2 separate regions of the Homo sapiens genome follow, and region 2 is linked to region 1. The links come from fine-mapping of genetic effects on gene expression. A gene starts in region 1. The other region holds a variant in brackets. All regions are shown on one strand. Distances are from middle to middle.

Evidence for each region.
Region 2: its variant is fine-mapped to the expression of SNU13 in monocytes after interferon gamma (Fairfax 2014, PIP 0.93).

What each region holds. Positions count from the first base shown.
Region 1 is chr22:41,679,649-41,695,222 of GRCh38, reverse strand. SNU13 (small nuclear ribonucleoprotein 13) reads left to right here and starts at 6,356. Exons shown (of 3, transcript NM_001003796.2): 1 at 6,356-6,429; 2 at 14,859-14,979. The coding sequence starts at 6,427. It also overlaps the pseudogene RNU6-476P and the pseudogene C22orf46P. RefSeq lists enhancers at 6,257-6,436, 6,987-7,156 and a silencer at 6,676-6,875.
Region 2 is chr22:41,569,680-41,585,253 of GRCh38, reverse strand. It overlaps PMM1 (phosphomannomutase 1), which reads left to right. Exons shown (of 8, transcript NM_002676.3): 3 at 651-727; 4 at 882-973; 5 at 1,196-1,295; 6 at 6,373-6,448; 7 at 7,331-7,446; 8 at 7,814-8,354. The coding sequence ends at 7,936. It overlaps CSDC2 (cold shock domain containing C2), which reads right to left. Exons shown (of 4, transcript NM_014460.4): 2 at 13,113-13,411; 3 at 11,477-11,599; 4 at 8,588-10,521. The coding sequence starts at 13,288. The coding sequence ends at 10,359. Among named protein-coding and RNA genes, the nearest start is that of PMM1, 12 kb to the left of the region's middle. The variant A/G (reference allele first, on the strand shown) is at 4,786.

The DNA of each region.
Region 1 (15,574 bases):
TGCCAGGATATTTGTGCCATCCTCACATCCATCCTTTCTTTGGTCTCTCTTCTCTGATGCCTGAATTTCTGCTCTATGTTCACCTCCAATCCAGTTCTGATTCTCCCAACATAGTATCTCAAATTCTCTATAAATTTCACTTGCTACTTGTCTCCGGTTTCCCCACCATAGTGCCTGGATCACCACCCAATCCTTCTCTTATCTCCCTGAGCTTCTTCTTGGTAGCTATCTGGGTTTCCTTAGCATCTTCATCTCTTCTCAGGCCCTTATTTCCCCACCCCACTTGAATTTCATGACTTAATTGTTTCTGGTTCTCTCCCCCAGATGCTTGGGTCTTCTTAGCTTTCTTACTTCCACCTTGATCATGCTTCTCCCACCTTGGTGTCTGGATCTCTGTAACATTCCCATTTCCAACACATTCCTGTTTTCCCCAATCCAAGGCCTGGGTCTCTACACTATTCTCTTTTTTTACTTCTCCCACGTTCTCCCTCCCACATGATTGGGTTTGTGCAGCATCCTGACCTCCAACCTGATCCTTGTTTCTCCCCTCTTCCATCTGAATTTCCACATCCGCATCACCTTTCATCTGATCTTGTTTCTCCCACTGTGGTGTCTGGGTCTCCTCACCATTCTCATCTCCAGTCTGGCCTTGCTTCCCCAATCCTTGAGCCTGGATCTCTTCCCCATCCTCCTCTCCAGCCTCTTTCTTGTCCTTCTTCTCAAATGTCTGGGTCTCCACAGCATCCTCACTTCCATTCTTATCCTGGTTCTCCCACTCAGGTGTTTGGGTCTCTGCATCAATTTTACATCTTAACTGTTCTTGGTTCTCTCCCATATGTGCCTGGGTTTCAGGGAGATTCTCACCTCCAGCCTCCCTCTGGTTTCTATTCCCTAGTTCCTGAATGTTGGTTCTACTCTCAACTCCCATCCGGTCCTGGGTGTCCCACCCTGGTGTCAAGATCTCGCCATCAGTTTCACTTATTACTAGTCTCTGGTTTGCACACTCCAACACGTTAGTCTCTGCATCACCCTCCATTCCAAAGTCTACTGGGAACTACTCCCCAGATGCCTGGATTTCTGAAGCATCCTCCCGTCTGCTCCCTGTCTGGTTCACCCACCTTGGAGCCTGGGTCTCTCTACTATCCTCTCTGCCTGCTTTCTGGTTTTTACCCCCTGGTTCCCAGGCCTCTGGTCGACAGTGCCAAGACTTCCAAGTGCACATTCTCAGTGTTTGGTGGGAAGGATCAGGCAGGAGCTCTCTGGGGGCAGAACTGCAGCCTCTCAGCTGAAAGTAAGTTTGGAAGAGAGGTGGTTAAGGTCATGGAGGTGGGGCGAGACCTCACACTGATGACAGGCTCCAGTGACACCAACCTTTCCTGTGAGTGAAGCAGCAGCTGCTCCATCTCTTGACACATGTCCAAGGCAGGGCGAGTCTGACCATCATGGAGACACCAAGGCACCTGCCATGCTTTCCAGGAACTGTTCTGAGGCAGTAAACAGGTGTTTGAAATGGAGGTGGTACAAAAGATGGGCTCAGAGTGGGTGTGGACACCCGAAGGTGGGCCTGGACATGGGTGCTGTGGAGAGAGCAGGTTCTGGGCCCATGATTCCTGGAGGCTCCTCCGGTATCCCCATCTCTGCCTTTGTGCGCATTGTTGAGAATCTAGGCCCCTGGACTTTCCAGGACTGAAGAATTCAGGAGTCAGCTTGAAGACAGTTTCGCACCTCATGGAGGGCACTGCCCGCTTCTGCAGTGGCACCTGTAGATGAGAACAGAGAAGCAAAATCCTTGCACACATAATAACTTGCATAATCCGCACAGACAGAATAGTCAGGAAAGGCTTCTTGGAGGAAGTGACATTTGACTGGAGCCTGAATGAAGTAAGGGGCAAACCAAGTGACATCTGAGGAAAGAGCGTTGTAGGCAGAAGAGACATTAAGTACAAAGGCTTGAGGATGGAACAAAATTACATGTACAGGAACAGCAAAGAAGACTGTGTGGCCAGAATGGAACCAGTAATGAGGAGAGCACTGGGAGATAAGATCGGAGACAAACATGGGACAGATTATGCTGGTCCTTAGAGTCGTGATTAGGAGCGAGAATTTTATTCTGAGTTTGCCAGATAATGTAAGTATAGGAGCCATTGCAGGGTTTTGAGCAGCTAAGTGCTATGTTCTGTTTCTAAAAGTTTGTTCTGATGGCAGGGCATGGTGGCTCATGTCTGTAATCCCAGCACTTTGGGAGGCCAAGATGGGTGGATCACTTGAGGTCAGGAGTTCCAGACCAGCCTGGCCAACATGGCAAAACCCCTTCTCTACTAAAAATACAAAAATTAGCCAGCCATCATGGCGCATGCCTGTAATCCCAGCTACTCAGGAGGCTGAGGCACAAGAATTGCTTGAACCCAGGAGGCGGAGGTTGCAGTGAGCCAAGATCACGCCACTGCAGTCCAGCCTGGGTGACAGAGCGTGACTCCATCTGAAAAAAAAAAAAAAAGAAGAGGCTGGGTGCACTGGCTCACGCCTGTAATCCCAGCACTTTGGGAGGTCGAGGTGGGCGGATCACAAGGTCAGGAGATTGAGACCATCCTGGCTAACACGATGAAACCCCGTCTCTACTAAAAATACAAAAAAAAAAAAAAAATTGGCCAGGCATGGTGGCGGGCACCTGTAGTCCCAGCTACTCAGGAGGCTTAGGCAGGAGAATGGCATGAACCCGGGAGGTGGAGCTTTCAGTGGGCCGAGATCGCGCCACTGCACTCCAGTCTGGGTGACAGAGCAAGACTCCGTCTCAAAGAAAGAAAGAAAGAAAGAAAGAAATCCAGAGTCGACCAGGCGTGGTGGCTCACACCTGTAATCCCAACGCTTTGGGAGGCCAAGGTGGGTGGATCACTTGAGGTCAGGAGTTCGAGACCAGCCAGACCAACATGGTGAAACCCTGTGTCTACTAAAAATACAAAAATTAGCTGTGCGTGGTGGCACATGCCTGTAATCCCAGCTACTAGGGAGGCAGAGTCAAGAGAATCACTTGAACCTGGGAGGCAGAGGTTGCTGTGAGCCGAGATCGCACCACTGGACTTTAGCCTGGGCCACACAGCAAGACTCCATCTCAAAAAAAAAAAAAAAAGAAAAGAAAAAAAAGAAAAACAAGAAAGAAATCTGCAGAGTTGGCTAGGAGTGGTGGCTCATTCCTGTAATCCCAGCACTTTGGGAGGCCAAGGCAGGCGGATCACATAAGGACGGGAGTTCGAGACCAGCATGACTAACACGGAGAAACCTCGCCTCTACTAAAAATACAAAATTAACGGGTGTGGTAGTGCATGCCCATAATCCCAGCTACTCAGGAGGCTGAGGCAGGAGAATTGCTTGAACTTGGGAGGCAGAGGTTGAGGTAAGCCGAGATCACACCATTGCACTCCAGCCTGGGCAACAAGAGCAAAACTGCATCTCAAAAAAAAAAAAAGGAAAAGAAAAGGAAATCCGCAGAGTTGTGACTAAAACTTCTGGGCTGCTGGTAATCATTTGTTTCTTAATCTGCATGCTACAAACTGATGTATTCAATTATGAAAATTTACTGATCTACACACTTGTAATTGTGTGTGTGTATTATCCTTGGACCAATTTTTTTTTTTAAAAGAGAGAAAAAAGAGGCCAGGCACAGTGGCTCACACCTGTAATCCCAGCACTTTGGGAGGCCGAGGCAGGCAGATCACAAGGTCAGGAGCTCGAGACCAGCCTGGCCAACAAAGTGAAACCCCATCTCTACTAAAAGTACAAAAAAAAAAAAAAATTTGCCAGGCGTGGTGGCGGGCGCCTGTAATCCTAGCTACTCGGGAGGCTGAGGCAGGAGAATCGCTTGAACCAGGGAGGCGGAGGTTGCAGCAAACCAAGATCACACCACTGCACACCAGCCCAGGCAACAGTGTGAGACTCTGTCTCAGAAAAAAAAAGAGAGAGAGAGAGAGAGAGAGAGAGAGAAAGAAGAAGGCCATTCTGGTGACTGTATGGAGGATAGGCTGTGGTTGGATAAGAGAAGCAGCAAGAACCAGGCAGAAGGCTGTTGCTATGGTCCAGTTGAGACATGATGGTGTCTCTGCCCAGGAGGGTGTGGTGTGGTTAGAAGTGATCAGATTTGAGATACAATTTGCAAGTATAGCCCCTGGGACCTGCAGATGGATTGAATGTGTGGAGTGAGGGAAAGAGAGGAGCTCAGGGTGACTCCTGGGTTTGGGGCTTGGCCGATGCTCTCCCTGAGCAGCCTGAGTTTCCCTCTGATTCATTTCTGGTACACCAGGCATAAAACAAGGTCCTTGTAACAAGTGACAGAGACAATCATGGTGCTGAGGGAAGAAGGGTGAAGGTGTATGGGGCCCACTCACCTTGATGACATTCCTTGTGCTGAAGCGGGTCCTGGTGACCTGGTGCCAACAGTGCCGGACCTGCCAGACCAGAAAGAGGCAGAGGACAAGCAGGTTGCCACAGCACTGAGGGTCCCTGCAGCTGTGATTCTGGGAGAGCAGGCCCTGCACTGGCTCCCACTCAGGGCCATGGAATGGCCCCACCACAGCACAGGCACCCAGCAGTGACAACAACATGGCAAAGCTTAGATCAGGCAGATGGTGTTGGGAGCTAGAGGGCAGGCCTGGCACATCTGATGCAGCCAGCTGCAGTAGGATAGCCGCCACCTCATAGCACCCCTGTCACTGAGGCCACCTCACAAAGGGGGCTGATGCCCCAGCCTCAACTCTGACCCTGGTGCCAGGCCTGGTTAGCATGCTCTTGGTGCAGGTAAGGACAGTATTGGGGAATTGTTCAAAAGTAATTAGGAGGAAGAACTTGTTTTAAACAAACCCATCCTCTGGAATGAAAAGATTAAGTTCCCTGAATGTGTGATGGGGTGATATAACCTGCGGTCTGCTTGATTTCTTTCTTCCTATGAAATACTTGGATCTGCCTGTCCTTCTATTATCAAACATTTAATGAACACTGTATTGAATACATGTATTCTTGTTTAACCACTCAACATGCCTTTCTCGTTGCTTGCAGTATCCTGATTTCCTGTGGGGGAATTACTTTTCCCATCTTAGGATCAGTGTTGGTGGGAAAATAAATGTTACCCTGAAGACTCTTTTACCCAAAAGTTCTATTCAAAATATTAAATATCTGAGCAGGCAGGGACGTCAGCCAATTATAATGAGCCAGGCCTTAACTGTTTAGTGGCTGGAATTTTTTTTTTTTTTTTTGAGACCGAGTTTCCACTCTTGTTGCCCAGGCTGGAGTGCAATGGCGCGATCTCGGCTCACTGCAACTTCCACCTCCCAAGTTCAAGCGATTCTCCTGCCTCAACCTCCCGAGTAGCTGGGATTACAGGCATGCGCCACCACGCCCGGCTAATTTTGTATTTTTAGTAGAGACGGGGGTTTCTCCATATTGGTCAGGCTGGTATCGAACTCCCAACCTCAGGTGATCCGCCCGCCTCAGCTTCCCAAAGTGCTGGGATTACAGGCGTGAGCCACCGCACCCGGCCCTCTTTTTTTTCTTCTTTTTTTTGAGACGGAGTCTCACTCTGTTGCCCAGGCTGGAGTGCAGTGTGCAGTGGTGCGATCTCGGCTCACTGCAAGCTCCGCCTCCGGGGTTCACGGCATTCTCCTGCCTCGGCCTCCCGAGTAGCTGGGACTACAGGCGCCCGCCACCATGCCCGGCTAATTTTTTGTATTTTTAGTAGAGACGGTTCACTGTGTTAGCCAGGATGGTCTCGATCTCCTGACCTAGTGATCCGCCTGCCTCAGCCTCCCAAAGTGCTGCGATTACAGGCGGGAGCCACCGCACCCGGCCGGCCTTTTTTTTTTTTTTTTTGAGAGTCTCGCTCTGTCGCCTCAGCTGGAGTGCTAGAGTGCAGTGGCATGATCTCAACTTACTGTAGCCTCCACCTCCGGGGTTCAAGCGATTCTCCTGCTTCAGCCTCCTAAGTAGCTGGGGTTACAGGCGCCCGCCACCACGCCTGGCTAATTTTTGTATTTTTTAGTAGGGACGAGGTTTCGCCATGTTGGCCAGGCTGGTCTCGAACTCCTGTCCTCAGGTGATGCGCCCGCCTCGGCCTCCCAAAGTGCCGGGATTACAGCCATAAGCCGCTGCGGCCGGCCGGTGGGTTACTTTTTGAATGTTTAATTCATTGTTTCTGCCAATAATTTGTACTAGGCAGCTCATAAGAACGCCAAAGTACGTTCCTTCTTCGACACAGGGCCAGTTTCCGCGCCAGTGCCCCCGTAGAGGGCGGGGCCCACTCGCTCGCGTAGCGTCACCTTCGCTTCCTGCCGCGCGGGGCCATTTCCGCTGCTGCTTCTGTGAGTTTTTCCGGTGCACGCGAGTGCTTCTGAAACGTCAGCTGCGCTCCCCTAGGAGTGCTGAGCCCGCGGAACCGCAGCCATGGTGAGTGCGTGCGCCGGCCGAGGGACCGGGAAGCGGGAGACTCAGGGTTGCGTTCACTCCCTAGCCTGTTAGATGGAGGCTTAGAGCCTGCGCCGTCTCATCCGCCGGCGTTGGGTCTTAACCGCCGGGCCCTTAGTTAGAACCCCAGCAGCGGCGGGGTCCCAGCAGCCTGGCCCGAGGTTAGAACTCAGGAAACCTTAGGATCCCCGCAGCTGTGTTGCTTTGCCGCACGGTCTGTTTGCTTGGCAAAAGGCCTGCAGCGAGCGGAGGGGGCATGGCCCAGCCTGGGAGAAAGAGACCAACCCACGTGGGAGAGGGCAAAAAGTTGGGTGAAGAAAACTTGGCTCCAACTTTTTTTTTTCCTTGTTTCTTTTCATACGAAATCTACGATGGCGTGGGACCCTGGGATTCGGATCAACCTCTCCTACCCACCCTACCTCACCCCACCCCCGTTGCTGGGGTTCAGGAGGAGATCTCCCATGGGTCTGCGCTTAGTGCCCGCCGCGAGTCACACGCGCCAGGGACCTAGAGGAGCCTTTGGCATTTGGGGGCTGTGGGGAACATGAAGTGAGCGCGACTCACGGCCTGGAGTGCAGGAAAGGCTTCTCCTGCAAGGCGGTGGCTTCAAAAACCAGAAGTCTGGTAGCACCACGTGCGGCGTCTCTAAACTCTTGGTCGTCTCTGACTTTTAAACATCTAGGGAAAGTTCTAAAACGTGTGTCCTGGCGTAGTAGTTTTGGTTGGCACTTGGTGAGGAGGGAAGAATTTGTAAAGCACTGTAACTTCTATAGTTAATCCTTCCAGTGGAGCTTGGATCCCGGCGGTAGCACTCCCCACAAACCTCCTCCCATGCATTTTGAAGCTTAGTACGTGGCTGAGCCTAGAACTTGAAGCTTCCAAACTCAGTGCTCGCTTTAACGCAGCTCCCTGAAACGTTTTGGAATCGGATGGTCTCAGGTTGAACTTTGCAGTTTTCCTCAACTGTAAAATGGGGATGACAGTGCATGAGGGTGTTGTGAGGATCAAATGAAATAAAGCATGGTAAACATCTAGTCCTGATGCTTGGTACAGAGTAAGCACGCAGTATTTGTTGTTCAATCAAAACCTTGCAAGTTTTGGCTGTCTGGTGTACAGCGAAACCAAACTGATCATGCTAGGTAGGGATTTAGGTTGGCTGGTGGTATGATATCATTCGTTAATTTATTTAACCCCTGAAGAAATTGAAAGGCAAATAAATACACCCTAAGCAAGTTTCAATTAGTGTTTATAAGCTAGTTTGGTTTTAAAATTGAGTTTAACTTTTTTGTTGACTAATAGTGAAACATTTAGGTATTTAATGATTGTTCAGATTCCTGAAGTCTTCCTCTTTTATGAATTTGATGTTTATTGAGATTTGAGAATCCTGATTTCCAGAGAATGGGTTGTTGGAAACAATGGCAATTTTTAAAGTTTTTTTAAATTGACATATCATAGTTGTACATACTTTGGGGGTTCCATGTAATATTTCTAAGTATATCTATTTTAAAACATGCAACAGGGCCAGGCGCGGTGGCTCATGCTTGTAATCCCAGCACTTTGGGAGGCTGAGGCGGGTGGATCATGGGGTCCGGAGTTTGAGACCAGCCTGGCCAACATAGTGAAACCCTGTTTCTACTAAAAATTCAAAAAAATTAGCCAGGCGTGGTGGTGGGCACCTGTAATCCCAGCTACTTGGGAGGCTGAGGCAAGGAGAATCGCTTGAACCTGGGAGGCGGGGGTTGCAGTGAGCCAAGATCACACCACTGCACTCCAGCCCGTGTGACAGTTTGAGACTCCGTCTCAAAAAAATAAATAAATAAAACTTGTGATAAATTATTAACCAAAATTTCCAGCTGGGCACGGTGGCTCACGCCTGTAATCCCAGCACTTTGGGAGGCTGAGGCGGGTGGATCATGAGGTCAGGAGTTCAAGACCAGCCTGACCAACATGGTGAAACCCCATCTCTACTAAAAATACAAAAATTAGCCAGGCGTGGTGGTGCGTGCCTGTAATCCCAGCTACTTAGGAGGCTGAGGCAGGAGAATCACTATAACCGGGGAGGCGGTGTTTGCAGTGAGCCGAGATCATGCCACTGCACTACAGCCTGGGTGACAAAGCAAGACTGTGTCAAAGAAAAAAAAAATCCCTACTGTAGTATCAAATAAAACATTTGTATGGCCGGACGTGGTAGCTCACACCTGTAATCCCAGCACTTTGGGAGGCCGAGGCGGGTGGATCACCTTAGGTCAGGAGTTCAACCTGGCCAACATGGTGAAACCCCCATCTCTACTAAAAATACAAAAATTAGCTGGGCGTGGTGGTGCATGCCTGTAGTCCCAGTTACTCGGGAGGCTGAGGCAGGAGAATTCCTTGAATATGGAAGGCAGAGGTTTCGGTGAGCCGAGATTGCGCCACTGCACTCCAGCCTGGGCGACAGAGGGAGATGCCGTCTCTTAAAAAAAAAAAAAAAAGATAAAAGAATAAACTCCAAATCAGTAGAGGGGAAAATAGTGCAAATGCAATGATAAATCCAGAGAAAGGAAAGAAAGAAAAAGAAACAGAACAAGTGGAACAAATAGAAGGCACAAAAGAAGGAAAATTTGAAACCATTATACCAATACTTAAATATGTAAAGGGACTGAGTGCTCCAGTTAAAAGACGGGATGTGGCCAAGCACTGTGGCTCAAGCCTGCAATCCCAGAAATTGGGAGGCTGAGGCGAGAGAATCTCTTTAGCCCAGGAATTGGAGACCACCCAGGGCAAAATAGTGAGATCCTGTCTCTACAAATTTTTTTTTTTTTTTTTTTGAGACAGAGTCTCGCTCTGTCACCCAGGCTGGGTGTGCAGTGGCACGATCTTGACTCACTGAAACCTCTGTCTCCTTGGTTCAAGCGATTCTCCTGTTTCAGCCTCCCGAGTAGCTGGGATTACAAGCATGTGCCACCATGCCCGGCTATTTTTTGTATTTTTTTAGTAGAGACGGGGTTTTGCCGTGTTGGTCAGGCTGGTCTCCAACTCCTGACCTCAAGTGATCTGCCTGCCTCAGCCTCCCAAAGAGGTGGGATTACAGGCGTGAGCCACCACACCCAGCCTAAACAATTTTTTTTTTAATTAGCCAGGAGTTGGCCGGGTGCAGTGGCTCATGCCTGTAAACCCAGCGCTTTGGGAGGCTGAGGTGGGCGGATCACAAGGTCAGGAGTTCAAGACCAGCCTGGCCAACATGGTGAAACCCCGTCTTTACTAATAATACAAAAATTAGCCGGGCATGGTGGCGCATGCCTGTAATCCCAGCTACTCAGGACGCTGAGGCAGGAGAATTGCTTGAACCTCGGAGGCAGAAGTTGCGGTGAGCCGAGATTGTGCCACTGCACTCCAGCCTGGGCAACAAGAGCAAAACTCCGTCTCAAAAAATAAAAAATAAAATAAAATAAAATTAGCCAGGAGTGGTGGCCCACACTTGTAGTTCCAGTTACTGAGGAGGCTGAGGCAGGAGGATCGCTTGAGCCCTGGAGGTCGAGGCTGCAGTGAGCTATTGTCATGCCACTGCACTCTGGTCTCAGTGATAGAGTGAGACCCTGTCTCAACAACAAAAAGGGTGTAATTCTTTTTTTTTTTTTTTTTGAGATGGAGTTTCACTCTTTCGCCCAGGCTGGAGTGAAGTGGCATCATCTCAACCTACTGCAATCTCCGCTTCCCGGGTTCAAGCCATTCTCCTGCCTCAACCTCCAAGTAGCTGGGATTACAGGTGCCTGCCACCACACCCAGATAATTTTTGTATTCTTAGTAGAGACGGGGGTTTCACCATGTCATCCAGGCTGGTCTTGAACTCCTGACCTCAAGAGAGCCACCCACCTTGGCCTCCCAAAGTGCTGGGATTATAGGTGTGAGCCACTGTGCCTGGACTGCCCCAGCTAAGTTTTTAAATATTTTTAGAGATGGGGGTCTCACTGTGTGGCCCAGGCTGGTCTCAAACTTCAGGCCTCAATCAGTCCCCAGCCTCAGTTTCCCAAGTTGGTGGGATTATAGGCCTGAGCCACTGCAGCCAGTTCAGAATACACTCTTCAAACATGGAACGTTTTTGAAAATTGGCCATAAAGCAAGCCCTGCAAATTTTAACATTGGTAATATTACATACCATTTTTGCCTAACCCAAAAGGAAATAAGTTAAAAATTAGTAACAAAGTAGTTTGAAATGAAAAATATAAACTATCAGAGAGATTTAAAAATTGTAGTAGGAATTCAAAAATAGAACAGAACAATAATGAAAATACCACATACCAGAGCATAAGTGACAAGGGCAGAGGGGGGAAGAAACAAATGAAAGGATATAATGAAAGTATTACTTGGAGCCTAAGATGCTAATGCTAGGGAGAAACGGGATAAAAAGGTAGAAAAAAACACTAGCACAAAATAACCCCAAAGAAAGTAGAAGGAAAGAAAAAAAACAAAAGGAGAAATTGCTGAAATAGAAAGTAGAGCATACTGCTGGGTCTTTTCCTTTCCGAAGCCCCTCTTTCTCACCAGAGAGAGCTGTTCTTTCTCTTTCTTTTGCCTATTAAACCTCTGCTCCCGGCCAGGCGCAGTGGCTCACACCTGTAATCCCAGCACTTTGGGAGGTCGAGGCAGGTAGATCACCTGAGGTCAGGAGTTCGAGACCAGCCTGGCCAACATGGCAAAACCCAGTCTCTACTAAAAAATACAAAAATTAGCCCGGTGTGGTGACGCGCACCTGTAATCCCAGCTACTGGTGGGGGCTGAGGTAGGAGAATTGCTTGAACCCAGGAGGCAGAGGTTGCAGTAAGCCAAGATCGCACTACTACACTCCAGCCTGGGCAACAGAGCAAAACTCCATCTCAAAAAAAACAACAAAAAAAAACCCTGCTCCTAAACTCCTGTGTGTCCATGTCCTAAATTTTCTTGGCATGAGACAACAAACCCTGGATATTTACCCCAGGCAACGAAGCTAGTTCAGTTTGACACTGTTGTCAAAGTTTTGGGGAATTAGTCACTGTCATGCATTGCTGGTGGGTGTGCAAGTTGTTAAACCCTATATAGGGTCAATTTAGAATAGATATAAAAGTTACAAATGCATATTATATCTTTTGACTCGTTAATCCCACTTCTAGGAGTTTATCTTACAGATATACTGAATGAAACATAATATAGATTAGGTATAGATGAGATTAGACATTATAGCATTTACATAATAGTGAAAGATTAAAAAATATATAAATGGGCTGGGCACAGTGGCTCACACCTGTAATCCCAGTACTTTGGGATGCCCAGGCAGGAAGATTGCTTGAGGCCAGGAGTTCACGACCAGCCTGGACAACATAATAAGACAGTGCCTCTAAAATTAAAAAATTAGCCAGACGTGGTGGTGCATGCATGTAGTCCCAGCTACTTGGGAGTCTGAGGCAGGAGGACCACTTGAGCCCAGGAAAGTCCCCCTCAGAAAGATTAATCGAAAAAATAAGGCCAGGCACGGTGGCTCACGCCTGTAATCCCAACACTTTGGGAGGCTAAGGCAAGCGGATCACTTGAGGTCAGCAATTGGGAGACCAGACTGGCCAACATGGTGAAAGACCTTCTCTACTAAAAATACAGAAAAATTAGCCGGGCGTGGTTGTGCATGCCTGTAGTACCAGCTGCTCTGGAGGCTGAGGCTGGAGAATCGCTTGAACCCCGGAGGAGGTTGCAGTGAGCCAAGATGCCACCACTACACTCCAGCCTGGGTGACAGAGCGAGACCCTGTCTCAAAAAAGAAAATGTTTAAGTAGGTAACATGTGAAGGAGACATACTCTATAGACATTAAAAAGAAAGGATGGCCAGGTGCGGTGGCTCATGCCTGTAATCCCAGCACTTTGGGAGGCTGAGGCAGGCAGATGACCTGAGATCAGGAGTTCGAGACCAGCCTGGCCAAAGTGGTGAAACCCCGTCTCTACTAAAAATACAAAAATCAGCCGGCCGTGATGGCGGTCACCTGTAATCCTAGGTACTCAGGAGGCTGAGGCTGCAGTGAGCCGAGATCGCGCCACTGCACTCCAACCTAGGCGACAGAGGGAGACTCCGTCTCTAAATAAATAAATGTATGAGGAAGAGAAAAATAATATGGAGGTCTTCCCTTGACCTCCCCCAACCCCCTTCCTTTAGAGAACTCCTCCATCCTTCACCTAATTCTTCCTAGTTGTCCTGGGACCAAGACAAATTCGCCTAAGATAAGGAGTTACGTAGAAGACAGGGCGTCCTGGTGTACGGGCTGGCCCTGGACGTCACTTCCGCTGGCGGCAGTGGCGTCACTTCCTGCTCTTGGGGGCGGGGCATCCGTGTCCTTGCGGTGCTGGGCAGCAGACCGTCCAAACCGACACGCGTGGTATCCTCGCGGTGTCCGGCAAGAGACTACCAAGACAGACGCTATGGTGAGTGTTCCTACTGGGCCATTATCTCCGGGTCACCTCCCGAGAGCTGTGGTGCCGCGAGCGTGGTCCCGCTGTGTCAGAAAAGCTGTAAAAAAACGGAAGGAGGAAAAGGCAGGTGCGCGGTGTCGGGCAGGAGACCACCGAGGCAGGCGCTATAGATGAGTGGTCCCACCAGGCCATCTCCGTCTCCAGCGACTGCCGTCCACCCTATGTCCAGCCTCCAAGGCCGAGGTTAGGTGGTAGCCGCAGTGAATCACTCGCGATTCGCACGTTACACACGATGGCGACATGTGGGGCCGCACCTGGGTTATAATATGAATATATCCTTGTATATAAATATGTGTTTGTAAAAACAAAAAAAAAAAGAGAAAAATTAATGAAAATGATTTACTGGAGCAGTGGGAATGAGATGGAAGGAGCGGAATAGGCAGGCCACTCACCCAATATGCTCCCTACATGGGTGTGTATTTATTTATTTATTGAGACGGAGTCTCGCTCTGTCGCCCACGCTGGAGTGCAGTGGCGCCATCTCCGCTCATTGCATCCTCCGCCTCCTGGGTTCAAGCTATTCTGCGTCAGCCTCTCGAGTAGCTAGGACTACAGGCGTGAGACACCGCGCTCGTCCCCTACATGGGTTATTTTGACACAGATCTGAATGACATCATTTTATCCATAAGTATTACAGTATATATCTATAAAGTAAGAATTTTTAACATAACTGCAAATGCCATTAATTAGTTAATAAGGGTTGCAAGTTGGTGATATTTAACTGTACCATTCCCTCTTTATTTATTAGGCGGAAGAGTGATACAAGAGGTACTTCTCATCTTCTACCTGGTTACCGCCTAATACAGCATTTAGGAAAGGCACAGAAGATGATTGTTTCCCTTTCCCAGTTTTCAAAATATTGAGTTGCTATCACTTGCATAGTTTTGACTTTTAAACCATGAAGATATTTTACATATTTGAAAAATAAAATTTAAAGCAAGCTGACTACAAAATAAATCTACTTGTATACCAAATTGCTAACCACAAGGAAAATTTTAATTTGAATAACTTTTGAACAAAGTCCTGCCACTGGATGGCTTTGATAGGATATATCCTAAGAACAAAAATAAATTTTGACTTTGGTGAGTTTGTTGGTAGAGGTGGTATATTGGTGTAGCAATTTTGGAACCATTTTGTGTGTATTGTAGAGGAGGTGAGGAAATACTTTAATGTGTTGGAAACCATGGGTTTGAACAGAAGATACGCATATGGAGTGGGGAATGGAAAGAAAACTTTGTGCTACATTTACTGTAAATTATATCTTATTGATTCAGTAAATTCAGGTGGAATACGGAAGTTCAAATTTAAAGATTACCCATGGACTCCTGACCTCAGGTGATCCACCCGCCTCGGCCGCCCAAAGTGCTGTGATTACAGGCGTGAGCCAGGAGTTTGAGACCAGCCTGGCCAACACGGTGAAACCCTGTCTCCACAAAAAATACAAAATTAGCCTGGCATGGTGGTGCACGCTTATAGTCCCAGCTACTTGGGAGGCTGAGGCACAAGAATCATTTGAACTCGGGAGGCAGAGATTGCAGTAAGCTGAAATCGCACCACTGCACTCCAGCGTGGGCAACAGAGCAAGACTCCATCTAAAAAATAAAAACAGAAATGGATTAGCCATGGACTCAAATGGATGCGGAGCCATGGGAACCCGTTTGTAATCCATTTGCTGTAATATTATCAAACATTCGGCTGAAGAAAGACAAAAGTACATGAGCTTTAGTATACTTTACTGAACTGTGTAATTCCTAATAGTGTATTTCCTTTTTTTCGAAGGTAGGAGTGGAAAGTCCATTGTTAACTACCTGGTGTTTTGTGTGTTTGAGGGTTAGGGAGCAGGGCAGCTGCCCCCTGTGTCTCAATTGTTGATTAGTATTTTGTGACTCAGGTAGGAAAACTTCTGGCTCAATTTGTCTGATATTTTTATGTCCCCCCCATAGACTGAGGCTGATGTGAATCCAAAGGCCTATCCCCTTGCCGATGCCCACCTCACCAAGAAGCTACTGGACCTCGTTCAGCAGTCATGTAACTATAAGCAGCTTCGGAAAGGAGCCAATGAGGGTAAGGCAGCCACAGGATGCTCTGGGGGAATGTTAAAGGCACCTGTTTCCATCTGGGGCCTCTGATCTGATTTCCAGTTTGGGAGGAGGGCTAGCTGCTCTCGACTACAACCAGTGGGAGGACTTTGGCATTAGATGCTAAAGCTGATGGGCTAAGAATTTTTTTTAGACCCACCAATTGTTAACATTTTGCCACATTTACCTTCTTTTTCACTCTATAAGTGAATTTTATTTTTGCTGAGCCATTTGAAAGCAGTTGTGGAGACTGTATAGTGGCTGTATGACCTCACCAGAGCCATCAGAAGGAAAGGGATATTAATGCTTTTTAGCATCCCTTATACGGTGGATACTTAACATTCATGAATTTCATTTGGTTCCCAGAAACATTCCCTACCCCTCTCCCTTTTTTTTTTGGATGCAATTATTCAAAAACATGGAACGTTTCACGAATTTGCATGTCATCCTTGTGCAGGGGTCATGCTAATCTTCTCTGTATTGTTCCAATTTTAGTATATGTACTGCTGAAGCGAGCACTACCTCCCTTTGTAAAAAAGGAAAAAAAAAAAGCTGTTTTTCAGTAGAATAATTATGTATGC
Region 2 (15,574 bases), 110 kb after region 1:
TTCCTCGAATTTTTCCTTTTCCCCACCTCTTGTTTATTCCATCAGCAAACCCCAAAATATCTCCCTGTCCCCTCTGTCTCCATCTCCACCACGCCATCATAGTCCAGGTAACCACGTGCCACCCAGACCCCGCAACAGCCTCTGGGCTGTGCTCCCTGTGCCTCCCACCTCCCACCCACTCCAACTGCTTCGCCTGGCAGTCAGAGCTGAAACCTCCAACTCTCCCATGCAGCCAGCCTTGAGAACCCAGTGCGATGGCAGCTATAGAACAGAAGGGAGCCCCTCTGCAGAGGGGCAGGGGAGCACAGAGTGGAAATGATGCCCTCTGCCAGAGAGTACTGCATGGCTTCCAGAGGAGGAAGCTGAATCTTGGAGGATGAGTGGCAGGGAAGCCAGGGAAGGGCGGTTCTGACAGAAGGACCTGCATGGATGCCTGTGTGCAGAGGCCCACAGGTGTGACTGGCTTCTTTGGAAGAAAACCAAGCTGCAGAGGGAGAAAGGCTGGAGAAGCAGGTTGTAGCCTCAGATTGAACAAATGGCCTTTGAATGTGAAACCAAGGGTGTAGGCTTCCTCTCTCTTTACTTGCCCGTGGGGTCACAGACGTGGTCTCACACTCTTTCTTCCTCCTGTCCTCTATGTGACCCTGAAGTCATTGAGAAGTTTGATTATGTGTTTGCCGAGAACGGGACGGTGCAGTATAAGCACGGACGACTGCTCTCCAAGCAGGTCAGTGTCCCCCAGGGCTTAGCCAGGGGCACCCCACTTTTCCATAGTGGAGCAGTCCAAGGGGGCTTCTGTCCTGGGCTGGGGGAGAGACACTGTGCCTGTCTCAGGGTCAGGCAGCCCAGGCCACGCTCAGAGCCCTGTGTTCCTTGGCCAGACCATCCAGAACCACCTGGGGGAGGAGCTGCTGCAGGACTTGATCAACTTCTGCCTCAGCTACATGGCCCTGCTCAGGCTGCCCAAGAAGCGGTGAGGTCCCACCAGCCTGGTCTCCAGAACCTGGGGCCTGAGGGAGGAGAAGTGTGGGTCCCTCAGAGGGAACCTGGAGATACTTGGGCCCCTGATTTTTTGCGGGGAGTGTGGATTCTTGTCCCCTTTGAAGTCCTAGGAGGCTGGGGTCCCAGGTGGGGCTAGATTTGAATTCAGGGCCGTTCTGGTTCTCTCTGGCTCCCCGCCCTCCCTCACCACCAGTGGAACCTTCATCGAGTTCCGGAATGGCATGCTGAACATCTCGCCCATCGGCCGGAGCTGCACCCTGGAGGAGAGGATCGAGTTCTCCGAACTGGACAAGGTACCACTAGCTATGCAATCTTAGGCCTGTAGGGCCTCAGTCACTCAATTTATCTGAGCCTTTATTTTCTCATCAGTAAAATAGACTGGGGGATGTGTTCTGATTTAACTGATACCCTTTCAGGCACCTACTGTGTGCCATTGTTGTAGACACACCTGCATCTTTACAATGCTGCTGGTCCCCCTTCCTAGGTGACCAGCACCAGGCAGCCACCCACTGAGCCAGGCCAACACCTGGGAACATCATTTCCACCTTCCCACCCACATCGGGTCCAACAACTCTTATTTCATCAGCCTCTCGAGTCAGTGTCAAATCTGTTCATCTGCAGAACTGAGACCCCACTTTCTAGATTACCCCTTTCCCCAGCCCCAGGCTGCCCCAACTTTCCTCTCTGTCCCTCCCTACCCCTTGCATAGCCCTGCCAGCCTGCTCTCCAGCAATGCCACTGAGAACCTTTCTTTCTTTTTCTTTTTGGAGATAGAGTCTCCAAAAAAATAGATAGAGGCTGGAGTGCAGTGGCATGATCTCAGCTCACTGCAACTCCCACCTCCCGTGTTCAAGCGATTCTCCTGCCTCAGCCTCCCAAGTAGCTGGAATTACAGGCATGCACCACTACACCCAGCTAATTTTTGTACTTTTTTAGTAGAGGCAGGGTTTCACCACGTTGGCCAGGCTGGTCTCGAACTCCTGACCTAAGGTGATCCGCCTGCCTCGGCCTCCCAAAGTTCTGGGATTACAGGCATGAGCCACCACGCACAGCCCATTAGAACCTTTCAAACATGTCAGCCGCATTCACCCCCCAGCCCCACCCCCTCATTTACAATCCTTCCTTGGCTCCTCGTTGCCAACTGGATGATGTCCTAGCCCCCTGCTATGGTGCCTCAAGCCCTGAGGGCTCTGTCTGGCTCTGGCTCTCCGCGTCTCCTTTCTATGCCCTTCAAGTTCCACTTTCTATTCCTGGAACACACCAAGGTCCTCTCACCTCTGCCTGTACTGCCCCTGCTAAACCTTGATGTGCATTTTGCTTTTCTCCCCACCGCCTCCCTCCCTCTCGGGGATGGAGCAATCCACCCATCCAGACCTTTCCATGCTGGCCCGTCCACGTCATTCTGTCATTCTCTCTGACCTGTTCGGTGGCTCTCCCTGCCCTCTGCTCCAGCTATGGCCTCTTGGCTGATTCTAGAGTGCTGTGCCTCTGTCAGAGCACACTTCTCTCAGGCCCAGCTCGTCCCTCCCCTCCTTCAAATCCCCTTTCACATCCTTTTCCCAGTGGGGCCTCCGAGAGTATCACATCCACTGCTGCACTTCCTCCTCCTTCCCCTACCTTATTTCTCCCCAAGTAGCCTTGGACAACTTTCATCATCTACTTTTAAAATCCGAATTACTGTCTGTCCCTGTCCCAGAACTGTAAGCTCCATGAGGGATTTCTGCGGCTTGTTCTCCTCTGGATCCCCTATGCTTGGCACATGGCATACTTTTTGTTGTTATTGTTTTTGAGACAGGGTCTTACTCTGTTGCCCAGTCTGGAGTGCAGTGCAGTGATCCAGTCCTAGCTCACTGCAGCCTCGATCTCTCAGGCTCAAGCGATCCTCACACCTCAGCCTCCTGAGTAGCTGGGACCACAGGTGCATTACACCATGCCAGGCTAATTTTTAAAATATTTTGTAGGGATGGGATCTCGCTGTGTCTCCCAGGCCAGTTTTGAACTCCTAGCCTCAAGTGGGCCTTCTCCCTCAGCCTTCCAAAGCACCAAGACTGTAGGTGTGAGCCACCGCACCTCGCAAAGAAATACCCTTTTTTGTTTTTTTTTTTTTGGAGACTGAGTTTCGCTCTGTCACCCAGGCTGGAGTGCTGTGGCACAATCTCGGCTCACTGCAACCTCCACCTCCCGGGTTCAAACAATTCTTCTGCCCCAGCCTCCCAAGTATCTGGGACTACAGGCACATGCTGCCACGCCCGGCTAATTTTTTTTTTTTAGACAGAGTCTTGCTCTGTCACCAGGCTGGAGTGCAGTGGCACAATCTCGGCTCACTGGAACCCCTGACTCGCTGGTTCAAGCGATTCTTCTGCCTCAGCCTTCCCAAGTAGCTAGGATTACATGCACCACAATGCCCAGCTAATTTTTTGTATTTTTAGTAGAGACGGGGTTTCACCATGTTGGCCAGGATGGTCTCGATCTTCTGACCTCGTGATCCGCCTGCCTCAGCCTGCCAAAGTGCTGGGATTACAGGCGTGGCCACTGTGCCCGGCCTAATATTTTGTATTTTAGTAGAGATGGGGTTTCACCGTGTTGCCCAGGCTGGTCTCGAACTCCTGAGCTCAGGCAATCCACCCACCTCAACCTTCCAAAGTGATTATAGGTGTGAGCCACTGTGCCCGGCAAGAAATACCTTTTGAATGAATGAAATGAGCTGTATTATCTCCATTTTATAAATGAGGAAACCAAGGCTCGATGAGAAGGGCCCTGCCCGAGGTCACATAGGGAGTTGGTTGCAGAGCAAAGATTTGATTTTGCCATTGGCCCTCTGGTGCCTCCCTGAGGGTGCCTCTCAGCTCAGTGACTCCTGACTCCCACCTGTGCCCTGAGGCTTAGGGGAGGCAGTGCCCACAGGCACAGGGACTTTTTTTTTTTTTCTTGATAGAGTCTTGCTCTGTCACCCAGGCTGGAGTGCAGTAGCATGATCTCAGCTCACTGCAACCTTCGCTGCCTAGGCTCAAGCAATTCTCCTGCCTCAGCCTCCTGAGTAGCTGGGATTACAGGCCCATGCCACCACACCTGGCTAAGTTTTTTGGTTTTGGTTTTGGTTTTGGTTTGGTTTTGGGTTTTTTTTTTTTTTTTTTTTTTGAGATGGAGTCTCACTCTGTCGCCAGGCTGGAGTGCAGTGGTGAGATCTCGGCTCGCTGCAACCTCTGCCTCCCGGGTTCAAGCGATTCTCCTGCCTCAGCCTCCCAAGTAGCTGGGACTACAAGCGCCTGCCACCACGCCCAGCTAATTTTTGTATTTTTAGTAGAGACAGGGTTTCACCATGCTGGCTAGGATGGTCTCGATCTCTTAACCTTGTGATCCGCCCTCCTTGGCCTTCCAAAGTGCTGGAATTACGGGCATGAGCCACCGCGCCCGGCCTAATTTTTGTATTTTTTAGTAGGGACAGGGTTTTGCCATGTTCAGGCTGGTCTCAAATCCCTGGCCTCAAGTGATCTGCCTACCTTGGCCTCCCAAAGTGCTGGGATTATAGATGTGAGCCGCTGCGCCCGGCCACGGGGACTTTTTTTTTGGGGTAGTTAGGATTGGTCTTAGGCAAAGAACCCTTCCCCCCCAATACACGTGCTGAGAAGTTATCCCTTCCTGTCCACCCAGGTTCCCAGTCCCAGCTCTACCCATTTGCCTTGTAACCTGGAAAAGCATCTTTACTAACGTGTGCCTCAGTTTCCTTATGTGTAAGGTGGGGGTAATAGCAGTTCCCATCCCATGGGCTGTCATGAGCACTGG[A/G]TGAGGTGGCACATGGACCCCACCTGGCATGGAGTTGGGGAGCCACACCCTAACTCCCCACCCCAGAGCCTTCTCAAGTATTTTTGGCTCTTGTTTGCTCCCTTCTGGCACTGGAGGAGCATGAACCTTCCTGATCTGTGCGCCCTGCCCTGGCCCAGAGCTGGTGTAAATAAATGCTTAACCCAGCTCATCTTCCAGAACCCTGAAGCGGGGATGAGTACTTCCCTTCCTTAGATGAGGACACTGAGGCCAGAGGGTGAGTAACCAGCTCGAGGTCACAGTGCCGGTCCCTGCTGAGGCTGGCCTTGCACATGGGGCTGTCTAGTGACCAGCCTTGTTCTCCAGAGAAGGGAGGTGCAGCCAGCCTCGGCCATGTGGAAACATTTCTTCAGAGCCTGGGGCAGTCTTAGTGGTAGCCCTGGGCCTACAGAGTGGACGCTGGTGGGGACTCTGGCCTCCCTGGGGCCCACCTACCTGCTGGAAAGCCAGGCCAAGGCTGGCAGGGGGCTCACATCCCTTATCTCTGCTTTTCCATGAGAGGGAAGCAGGCAGGGGTCATTCATTACTTCTCTGTCCTTTAGTCCAGGAAATAGGCTCAGAGAGGTCAGGTGACTTGCCCATGGTCACACAGCTGAGGAGTACAGTAGCCAAGCCTGGCTACTTGCCTTCAGATCTCAGGCTAGGGGGTGTCTGGCTTTATATCTGACATCCTCCCTGGGCCACTTCTCCAAGCTCCATGCTGCTGACCACTGCCTGCCTTTCCGCCCCAGTCCTACCCGGCTCTGACTACAGGGCCATACCAGCCACCCCACTCCTGTGCTCCAGAATCCTCAGCGCCTCTTGGTCCCCCAGGATGTGGTCAGACTTCCCAGCCCGGTCTCGAGACCCTCTGTCAGCTGAATGTCCTGCTGGCTGGTTTAGATGTTCAGCTGCCCCTCAGACTGGGCATAGCTGCTCCCCTTTGTGGCCCTCTGAGATGGAGATCCTGGGGGCTGGCGGGGAGAATGTCCCCCTGCTCCACGTTTGCGGAGCTGCTGCCAGAGTTCCTGCTCAGAGGGACGGGGCCGGCCTGGGCACTACCTAGTCCCCAGCCCAGCCGCGTCTTTGCATGCTGGGTGCTCTGCCATGCCTGGCATCCTGCTGCCCTCTGTGAATGCCCACAGCCACCTCCTCACAGGTCTCCTGCTCTCAGCTCCCATGCTCATTTCTGAGTATTTGCTTTGTTGAGCTGGTTACAGATAACAGGATCGAGCCCTGCCCTGAGGTGGACACTGATGTGGGATCCAGATTGCCCCGTCTCCTCGCCCTTCCTACTCGTGTCTCTCCTCTGAGGTCTCCTTCAGAAGACCCAGCCCACAGCCCCATTGGCAGCCCCATCCCTTCTGGATTTAGGCCCTGGCTCTGCCACCAGGGCTAGGTGACCTTGACCAAGGCACAACCCCTCTCTGAGCCTTAGTTTGCGCATCTGCACAGTTGGGGGTCCTACCCACCTAGAATGCTCAGCACGCTCACGTGGACTGTGTGCCCAGCCAGGGCCTGGCACACAGCAGGTCCTCTGAGCTGCCATCCGCTCCCTCCCCTCTGCAGAAAGAGAAGATCCGGGAGAAGTTCGTGGAAGCCCTGAAAACAGAGTTTGCTGGCAAAGGGCTGAGGTTCTCTCGAGGTACGTCCACCCTGCAGAGGACCTGGGAGGCCTGGTACAGGGCCCCTCCTCAAACCATCTGCCCCTGCCAAGACCAGGCTGTGGCCCCCAGTAGCTTTAGTAGCCCCTCCCCGGCTCAGGGCAGAGAGGGTGGCTGAGCCCGATGCAGAAAGGGGTTCAGTGTTTACTGGCCCCCAGTTTTCCCCACCTCATACCTCAGAGGTAAACGCCCCATGCCCACCCAGTTTCTCAGGCCAAAAAACCAGAGCCTCTCCCTTGAATGCTCTCCCCCACCCCTTCCCAAGTCCAAACTCCTAGAAGTCACAGGGCCCCCTGTCTGGAATCCCACCGGTGCTCACACTTCCACTGCCAGCAGCTTGTCCCAGGCTCCAACTGACCCTGACACAACTGGGCTCCCCTCTGCCACCTCACCCATTCCCCAGTGGCCAGAGAGGCTGGAGCTGGAGTCATGACATGCCTCTGCCCAAAGTCCTCCCCAGGCTCTTCCTCCCTCTCCATGTGATGCCCAGGGCCTGCCCGTCCTCCCCCTACCTCTCCTGGCCTCCTCCGTTGCTGGGACGCTCGTTCTCTTCCCTGCCTCAGGGGCTGTACTTTGCGCCCCAGCCATCCCCACTCGGCTCAGGTCCCAGCTCATTGCCACCTCCTCAGAGGTCTCCCCTGATCACCCTGGCCGGATGAGCTTCCCCCACCCACTTCATGGTCTTGTTCATTCTCCAACCTGTGTCATAACTTCCTTGAGGATCCTAAGTCTGTCCCGTGTCCTATTCCTGGCCCTCAGTAGGCACTCAAGGGTTGTTGAATGAATGAATGAACAAGCAGCCCTTCTGTTAGCCTTGTCTGCCCCTCCCAGCAGGGAATAACAGTCCCCACCCCTGCCCACAGGAGGCATGATCAGCTTTGACGTCTTCCCCGAGGGCTGGGACAAGCGCTACTGCCTGGATAGCCTGGACCAGGACAGCTTCGACACCATCCACTTCTTTGGGAACGAGACTAGCCCTGTGAGTGTGGCCCACCCCAGGTTTCCCCTAACGCAGTGGACAGTGAGAAGCCAGGTCTGGTGGCTTCTCCAATGCAAATCACCTGAGGTCAAGGCCAGAACATGGGGCAACACAACAGACCTCTTAGGGGGCTCCTGGAGAACAACCATTGCTCACCAGCCCCGTTACACAGATTGGAAAGCTGGGGCCCCAAGAGGCTGGGCACTTGTTCTACATCACACAGCAAGTCAGGGCAGGTCTGACAAGGGGTGAGAAGGTGGGCTTCCTGGCAGTTCTGAAGGGGCAGGAGGAGGGGCAGGTCCGTAGCAGCCAATGTGGAGAGGGACTCCACCTAAATATCCCTCCTCTGCCCATCCTCTGTGTGCAGGGTGGGAACGACTTTGAGATCTTTGCCGACCCCCGGACTGTTGGCCACAGCGTGGTGTCTCCTCAGGACACGGTGCAGCGATGCCGGGAGATTTTCTTCCCAGAGACAGCTCATGAGGCGTGACCGGGGCCCACATCTGTGTGTCGTGACTTCTGAAGAGTTTGGCCTAGGCCTAAAGAGAGGTCCTGGTGTTGGATAGATGCCAGGGCCCCTCCTCTGGCCCAGGACGCCTGCTGCAAGCCCACCCAGATGGGGCCAGAGTCTGTGTGGACAACCGTCCCCAGCCAGTCTGCTCCTAGTGGCACTGGCTTCGTCCTCCCAGGGCCCAGAGTGTTCCCCATGCTCCACCTGGTGGCCCAGGCCACAGCTGCTGCTTGTATTTCGGTACAGAAGAGGTTTCTTTCTGCACCAGGAGGAGGCGTGCTCAAGTATCGGTACGAGATCTAGCCTGCCCTGCCTGCCTGCCCTGGGCGATGAGGTACGGTGGGGAAGGTGCCTATTTTAGAGAACTTTGTCACAGTATTAAAGTTCCCAGAACAAAGTAGGTGTCAGCTGTGTCTGAATGGATAATTGGCCCCAGTCACATGCTGTCACAGCCACTACTTTGCCGACAAGTAAACAGCACAGAGAGGGCAGGGACTTGGCCCAGGTCACAAAGGAAGTCTGATGCAGTCGAGGAGGGGGCCATTGAATCCCCAAAGAAGAGCTGGTTTGGTGTGTCCACCCCCAGCCCCTTCCTTGGGGACCCTGACACAGAGGCAGCTTCAGGCCACGGTGGGTCACAGTTGAGGGTTTATTGCCAGTGTTAGGAAGAATGGGGGGTCTGGGTGGCCAGGGGTCTTGGGAGGAATTCCAAATGAGCACTGCAGGGCCTGTGAGTGGGGAGGAGAGCTGCTGCCCCCCTGCCACCCAGGAGGCCCCAGGGCTGATGCCACCATATCCTGACTGCTAGTGGTGCCTTAAAAGGTGGCCTCCCCACAGGAGGGGAGCCTTGGGGGCCCCCAGGAGTCAGCCCTCACCAACAAGCCCTCTCTCAAGGGGGCCAGGGGCCTTTATTCCTCATGGGACAGGCTGGGCCGTGCCCATTTTAGGGGAGCTGACCACACCTCAGCAGCTCTGGGCTCCCAGATTTTATGTGGTGGGCCCTGGGGCCGGGGGTGGGATGCAGGCATCCCGGCTGATTTCTACCCTGCGGTCTTGGGGCACCTACAAGGCAAGGGATCCTCCTAGACAGTCACTGATCCCCTCATCCTGGGCATTTGAGCCCCCAGTTTTACTCACAGACTGAGTCTCATAAGGGTCCCACCCCTGGCCAGCCCTCCCTCGAACCACGGCCCCACTTCTCCCCGGTCAGGCGATGTGCTCTCTAGAAGGGAGGGTGGTAGGCAGGGGGTGCACCCAGAGGTGGAGGCAGACAGGGCCCTCCTTCCTGGCCTCCTGGGCCAGGCCACCCTCACCCCTGCCTGGGAGTGAATGGCCACGACCCCGGGTGCACACACATCTTGGCCCCAAAAGGACTCCAGGTGACAGCAACAGCCACACATCTTCAGGGATGGATGCAATAAGAGCCACACCTCGGCCACTGGTCTGTTAGGGCTTTGGGAAGAGAGTTTGACGTGGAGGCCGCAGGGCCAGTCTCCCAGGCTGGGGGCCCTCCTCGTGGGTGCCCCGGACGTGTGTCCGTCCCTCGCGGCATCCACAGCAGCCGTCAGCCGGGCATGGCCCAGAGCATCAGTGGGGCTTGTGAGTCAGGGTAAAGGAGGTCTGCAGCCAAGCTGGAGAGATGGACCCCCACCCTCTGCAAACCCCTGGGCTCGGCTCAGTACAGCCCAGGGGAAGGAGCCCAGCGCCACTGCCAGGCTGAGGAGGAGGGACTGGCCGGCGAAATGGGAGCCCCAAACCCCTTCCGCCCTCAGGCCCCTCTTCCTGCCTCTCCATGGCACTGAGAGAGCAGAGCAGGAAGGAAGGCTGGCCTCGGCAGTGAGAGGCCTGTGTGCCTCCGTGTCAGTCCTCCTCCCCTGCCAGAGGCTGAGAGGCTCCCCAAAAGCACCCATCGGCCAGGCTTCTGAGGGAAGGGTCCAGGCTGTGGCGGGGGACCTCAGCCAAGGGAGGGAGATGTAAGTAGCACAGAGAGCCTGGCTCCGGGCCAGGGACTGACACGGGACAGCTCAGGGGCGGAGGCCAGGGAGTGAGCCCAGCGCAGGCTCTCGCAGCTCAGTCACCGTGGGGACGGGTAAGCAGGAGGGCGAGCGGGTCCTGCGTGTCTGCGGCAGGGAGGGGAGGAGAGAGGCAGTGGACAGCGCGAAGCCAGGTCTGGTGGCCTTGCCCTCCACCTACCTCCTGGCCAGCTTGCACAGTAGTCACGGGTCGTGGGGTGGGTGGAGGCACACGCTCATAGCCACAAGCACAGACGGACAGACAGACGTGCACACTGAGGCCACCGAAGGACTCATCAGCCAGGGCAGTGGGGCATGGAGCCGGCTGCTGCCCGTTCACCCTGTGTGGCTCCCCAACCCCCGGCCAGCTGGCCTGTGAACCACTCAGCCTAGGAGCCCACGACCTGGCCAGACCACGTCTCGTGGGGAGTGTGGGGGGCCAGCTGAGTGAGCACCACCTCCACGGCCTGGAACTTCTGGTTCTTGGGAGGGATAGGGCACATCTTGTAGGTCACCTCGTCGCCCTCCACTGGCACGTACTCCCCCTCGATGCTGGCGGGCAGGAAGAGGGGTATTAGCCCAGCAGCAGGCCCTGTGCCCCAGACAATCCTGTGGCCTGGCCTTGGGGGCAGCCTGGCCCTAAGCCTCCCTAGGCCAGGAGGCCTGGCCAGGCCTTGCTTCTCAGAACCTCAGCTCTCGAATCTGTAAAACGGGACTCATGGCTGGGCACAGTGGCTCACGCCTGTAATCCCAGCACTTTGGGAGTCTGAGGCGGGCGGATCACCTGAGTCAGGAGTTTGACACCAACCTGGCCAACATGGCGAAACCCTGGCTCTACTAAAAGTACAAAAATTAGCCAGGCATGGTGGCTGGCACCTGTAATTCCAGCTACTTGGGAGGCTGAGGTGGGAGAATCGCTTGAACCCAGGAAGTGGAGGTTGCACTGAGCCGAGATTGTGCCATTGCACTCCAGCCTGGGCGACAGAGCGAGACTCCCTCTCAAAAAATAAATAAAATAAAATAAAATGGGACTCATAAACTGTACCTCCCTTTCTGGGTCCCTTGGGGACCGAGATGTGAAAGGGCACGGGGAGGTCCCTAAAGCTCTGAGAAGCTCAGTGACCTCCCCCGGTCCTCCTGGCATTAGAAGTGGGTGGGGCCAGGCCTAGACATGATATCCATCTCTACCTCCTGGCCCACCCACATGAAGGCCCTTTCCAGGCCAAGAGGCTCAGGAGCTGGCCTAGCCCTCTCAGACCTCCACGATGCTGTAACAGGATCCAGGGCCCAGCCGCTGGCTCCCAGGCTTCTGGGGTCTGCGTGCCCACTCCCTCCCTGGCCCCAGCCCTCCTCTCCCAACGCACCCTCAGCCCCTACTCAGAGGACAGAAAAGGCACCATGAATACAGACCTCAGCCAGTGAGAGGAGAGGCCTGGAGAGCCATTTTTGAGGCACCATTGGGGACACTAGGGCAGGGGCCAAGAACAGGGAGGTGGAGGGGACTCACTCAGACACATGTACGAAGATGTCCTCGGACCCGTTCTCGGGGGTGATGAAGCCATGGCCCTGTGAGCGTGAGAACTGCTTACAGACGCCCTTGAACACGGGGCCAGCTGAGGCCCGGGCTGTCCTGGAGATAGGGTAGTGGGATTGGAGCTGTGGCCTGAGGAACTCCTCCCCGGATCCCTACAGCCATTCTGGGCCCTTTCTGCTGAGCGTGCCTCAGGGCTGTGAGAAACTTGACCCAGGCCAGAAACCACACAGTCATCCCCATTCAACGATAATGAGGCCAGGCACGGTGGCTCACACCTGTAATCCCAGCACTTTGGGAGGCTGAGGCGGGAGGATCACTTGGGCCTAGGAGTTTGAGACCAGCCTGGACAACATAGGGAGACTCCCATCTCTACAAAAAAAATTTTTTTTTTTTTTTGAGACAGGGTCTTTCTCTGTCACCCAGGCTGGAGTGCAGGGGTGCAATCTCAGCTCACTGCAACCTACACCTCCCAGGTTCAAGCAATTCTCATGCCTCAGCCTCCTGAGTAGCTGGGATTACAGGCACCCACCACCACACCCAGCTAAGTTTTGGCATTTTTAGTAGAGACAGGGTTTTGCAGTGTTTGGCCATGTTGGCCATACTGGCTTGATCTCCTGTCCTTAACTGATCCACCTGTCTCGACCTCCCAAAGTGCTGGGATTACAGGCATGAGCCACCATGTCTGGCCCAAACATTTTTTTAAAAAAATGAGCTGGGGGTGGTGGCACGCACCAGTCGTCCCAGCTACTCAGGAGGCTGAGGTGGGAGGATTGCTGAAGGCCAGGAAGTTGAGGCTGCAGTGAGCCATGACTGCACCACTGCACTCCAGCCTGGGCAACAGAGCGAGACCCTGTCCTTCCCAAAAGATCCTTTGGCCTCCCCCATATGGACCCGTATTACTCCCCTATGCCACCTCATCGGTGACCTACCCCAAAGGCCCAGGCCTAGTCTTTGTCCCGCCTACCTACCCCTCTCCAAAGGTTAACTCCGTGTCTTGGGTTTTGCCCATGCTGTACCATCTGCCCAGAATCGCCAGCTCCCTTCTTCACCTGATACATCTTCCATACCCAACCAGGACATCATCTCCTCTGGTACCCCATGCTGGGTCCTCACCCCTAACCCTGCTGGGTGGTAATGGATGGTGAACAAGTTCCCTCTGGATTGTAAGCAGCTTATGGATCCTGACTGGTCAGGAGCTCAGTAAATCTTTGTGGAATAGATGGATAGATGAATGGATGGGTGGATGGATGGACGGACAGACGGATGGATGGACGGATGGATGGGTGGGTGGATGGATGGATGGATGGATGGACAGGTGGATGGATGGATGGATGGATGGATGGATGGATGGATGGATGGATGGGTGGGTGGGTGGGTGGGTGGGTGGGTGGGTGGGTGGGTGGGTGGATGGATGGATGGATGGATGGATGGATGGGTGGATGGGTGGATGGATGAATGGATGTATGGGACAAACATCCATCCAGTTACTGGAAGGTCCACACACAGTTCCCCTGTCCCAGGTGAGGACAACAGGAGTTGGAAGAGGATGGGGATGGTCAGCCCCTGTCCTGACAAGGGTCAGGGGCCTGGGCAAGGGGCAGGTACTCACGCTGAATAGGTCCTGGTCCGCTTGGTGGGCAGAGGGCTGGGTAGGTCCCGAGGTGGGACACCACCCCGCTCCCAGACCCTGCTGCCCTCCCTGTGGAAGGGGAAGGTGGGCCAGACTGGGGACTTGGGGGAGTGGAGCGGGGGCACAACTGGGGGTGACGTCGACTCTGAAGTCATGGTGGGGCCAGCAGGAGAGCCTGGTGGGCTCTGGGGCCCAGGGGCCGGTGAGGGGTTTGGTCGTCCTTGCGGGCAGGGCCCGGCCTGGCCCTGCTCTGCGGCCTCACCAGCCACGGGCTCCGTCTGGAAGAGGAAGAAAGAGGCACAGGTGAGCCTAGTCCAGGGGAGCAGCTCCTGAACCCTGGCCACAGTGAGGAGGGCTGGTCCCACCTGCTATCCTCACGGCGTTACTTCAAGTCACAAACGACCCCATCGTGGTTCAGAGTCCTCACCAGAAAAACAAAACTAGGGGTCATATGACCCCTAAGTCCTTCCAGTTTGCAGTTCAATTCTCTTAACTCCAGGGGCCTGGGAGGTGGCTGGGTAGGGTGGCCAGTGATGGTCTAGAATATGGTTCGGCATAAGGGTCAGTTGTTTCAGAGTCACACATCTGGGTTCAAACCTTAGCTTTGTCACCTACAACTTGGTGACTTCAAGCAAGCCAAGCCACACATCAGCTCCAACATGGCAGGTGGGAGTATGGGCTCCACACCCAGGCCTGGGTTTGAATCCTGCATCCTCCACCTTCTGGCTACATAGCCTTGGCTCTGGTCAAATTTTTTTTTTTGTTTTAGACAGAGTCTCACTCTTGTTGCCCAGGCTGGAGTGCATTGGCACGATCTCGGCTCACTGCAGCCTCTGCCTCCTGGGTATAAGCGATTCTCCTGCCTCAGCCTCCTGAGTAGCTGGGATTACAGGCGCCTGCCACCACACCTGGCTGATTTTTTGTATTTTTAGTAGAGATGGGGTCTCACCATGTTGGCCAGGCAGGTCTCGAACTCCTGACCTCAGGTGATCTGCCCACCTTGGTCTCCCAAAGTGCTGGGATTACAGGCATGAGCCAACTCGTCCAGCGCATTGGTCAACACTCTTAACTTCTGACTCTTATTTTCTGTTCTGTAAAATGGGGCTAGCATTGATCCTTTGTTTTTTTTTTTTTTTTTGAGACATGGTCTCATCCAGTCTGGGGAACACTGACATGGTCATGACTCACTGCAGCCTCCATCTCCTGGGCTGAAGCGATCCTCCCACCTCAGCCTCCCAAGTAGCTGGAATTTACAAGCATGCACCCTCACACCTAGCTAATTTTTTTTTTTTTTTTTTTGAGACAGAGTCTCACTCTGTCACCCAGGCTGGAGTACAGTGGTGTGATCTCGGCTCACTGTCACTTCTGCCTCCCAGGTTCAAGTGATTCTCCTGCCTCAACCTCCCAAGTAGCTGGGATTACAGGTGCCTGCCAACACGCCTGGCTAATTTGTGTATTTTTAGTAGAGACGGGGTTTCACCATGTTGGCCAGGCTGATCTCGAACTCCTGACCTCAGTTGATCTACCTCCCTCGGCCTCCCAAAATGCTGGGGTTACAGGCCTGTGGCCTCCAATTTATACCCCTCCCACCCCAGAGCTTGGAGTTCCCAGGGAAGGAAAATCACCCACAAGGTTCCTGTAAGGTTCCTTGGAGTCCAGAGCTCAGAAAGCCTGAACACCCTGCATGGCAGGCCTGGATGAGTCCAGGAGTCCACTGGAGCAGGTCTTCTGGCCTCTGCTCAAGATTATACAGCAAGTGGAATTTTTCTGAACCAAGATGCTGAGCTGGCTCTGCCATGCCTAGGGGTGGAGGTGGAGTAGTATCCTCCCTCCTCCCAAAACCCTCCCCCTCCAGTCAGGAAGGCACTGGAGCCCCGGGCTTGGCTTGCCTCACAGACCCTCAACCCTGAAAAGGCTGAAGTGGGGCTTTTCTGTCTAAGCTCATGCCAGGTTGGCAGGGCAAACCAGGTTTGGCCTTTTCACCCATTATCCTCATTTTAGAGAGAAGAATACGGAAGCTTCAAGAAGCAACCACACAAACAGCCGGGTGTGGTGGCGCACACCTGTAATCCCAGCACTTTGGGAGGCCAAGGTGGGCAGATCACTTGAGGTCAGGAGTTCGAGACCAGCCTGGCCAACATGGTGAAACCCCGTCTCTCCTAAAAATACAAAAATTAATCGGGTGTGATGGCATCCACCTGTAGTCCCAGCTACTCAGAAGGCTGAGGCATGAGAATTGCTTCAACCCGGGAGGCAGAGGTTGCAGCAAGCCAAGACCACACCATTGCACTCCAGGGTGGGTGACTGACCCAGACTCTGTCAAAAAAAAAAAAAAAAAAAAAAGCAACCACACAAACACTTGGACATAAATGTTCATGAATGGTCACACCAGTGCTCATTCACAACAGCCAACAAGTGAAAACAGCCCGAGCCCATCAGCA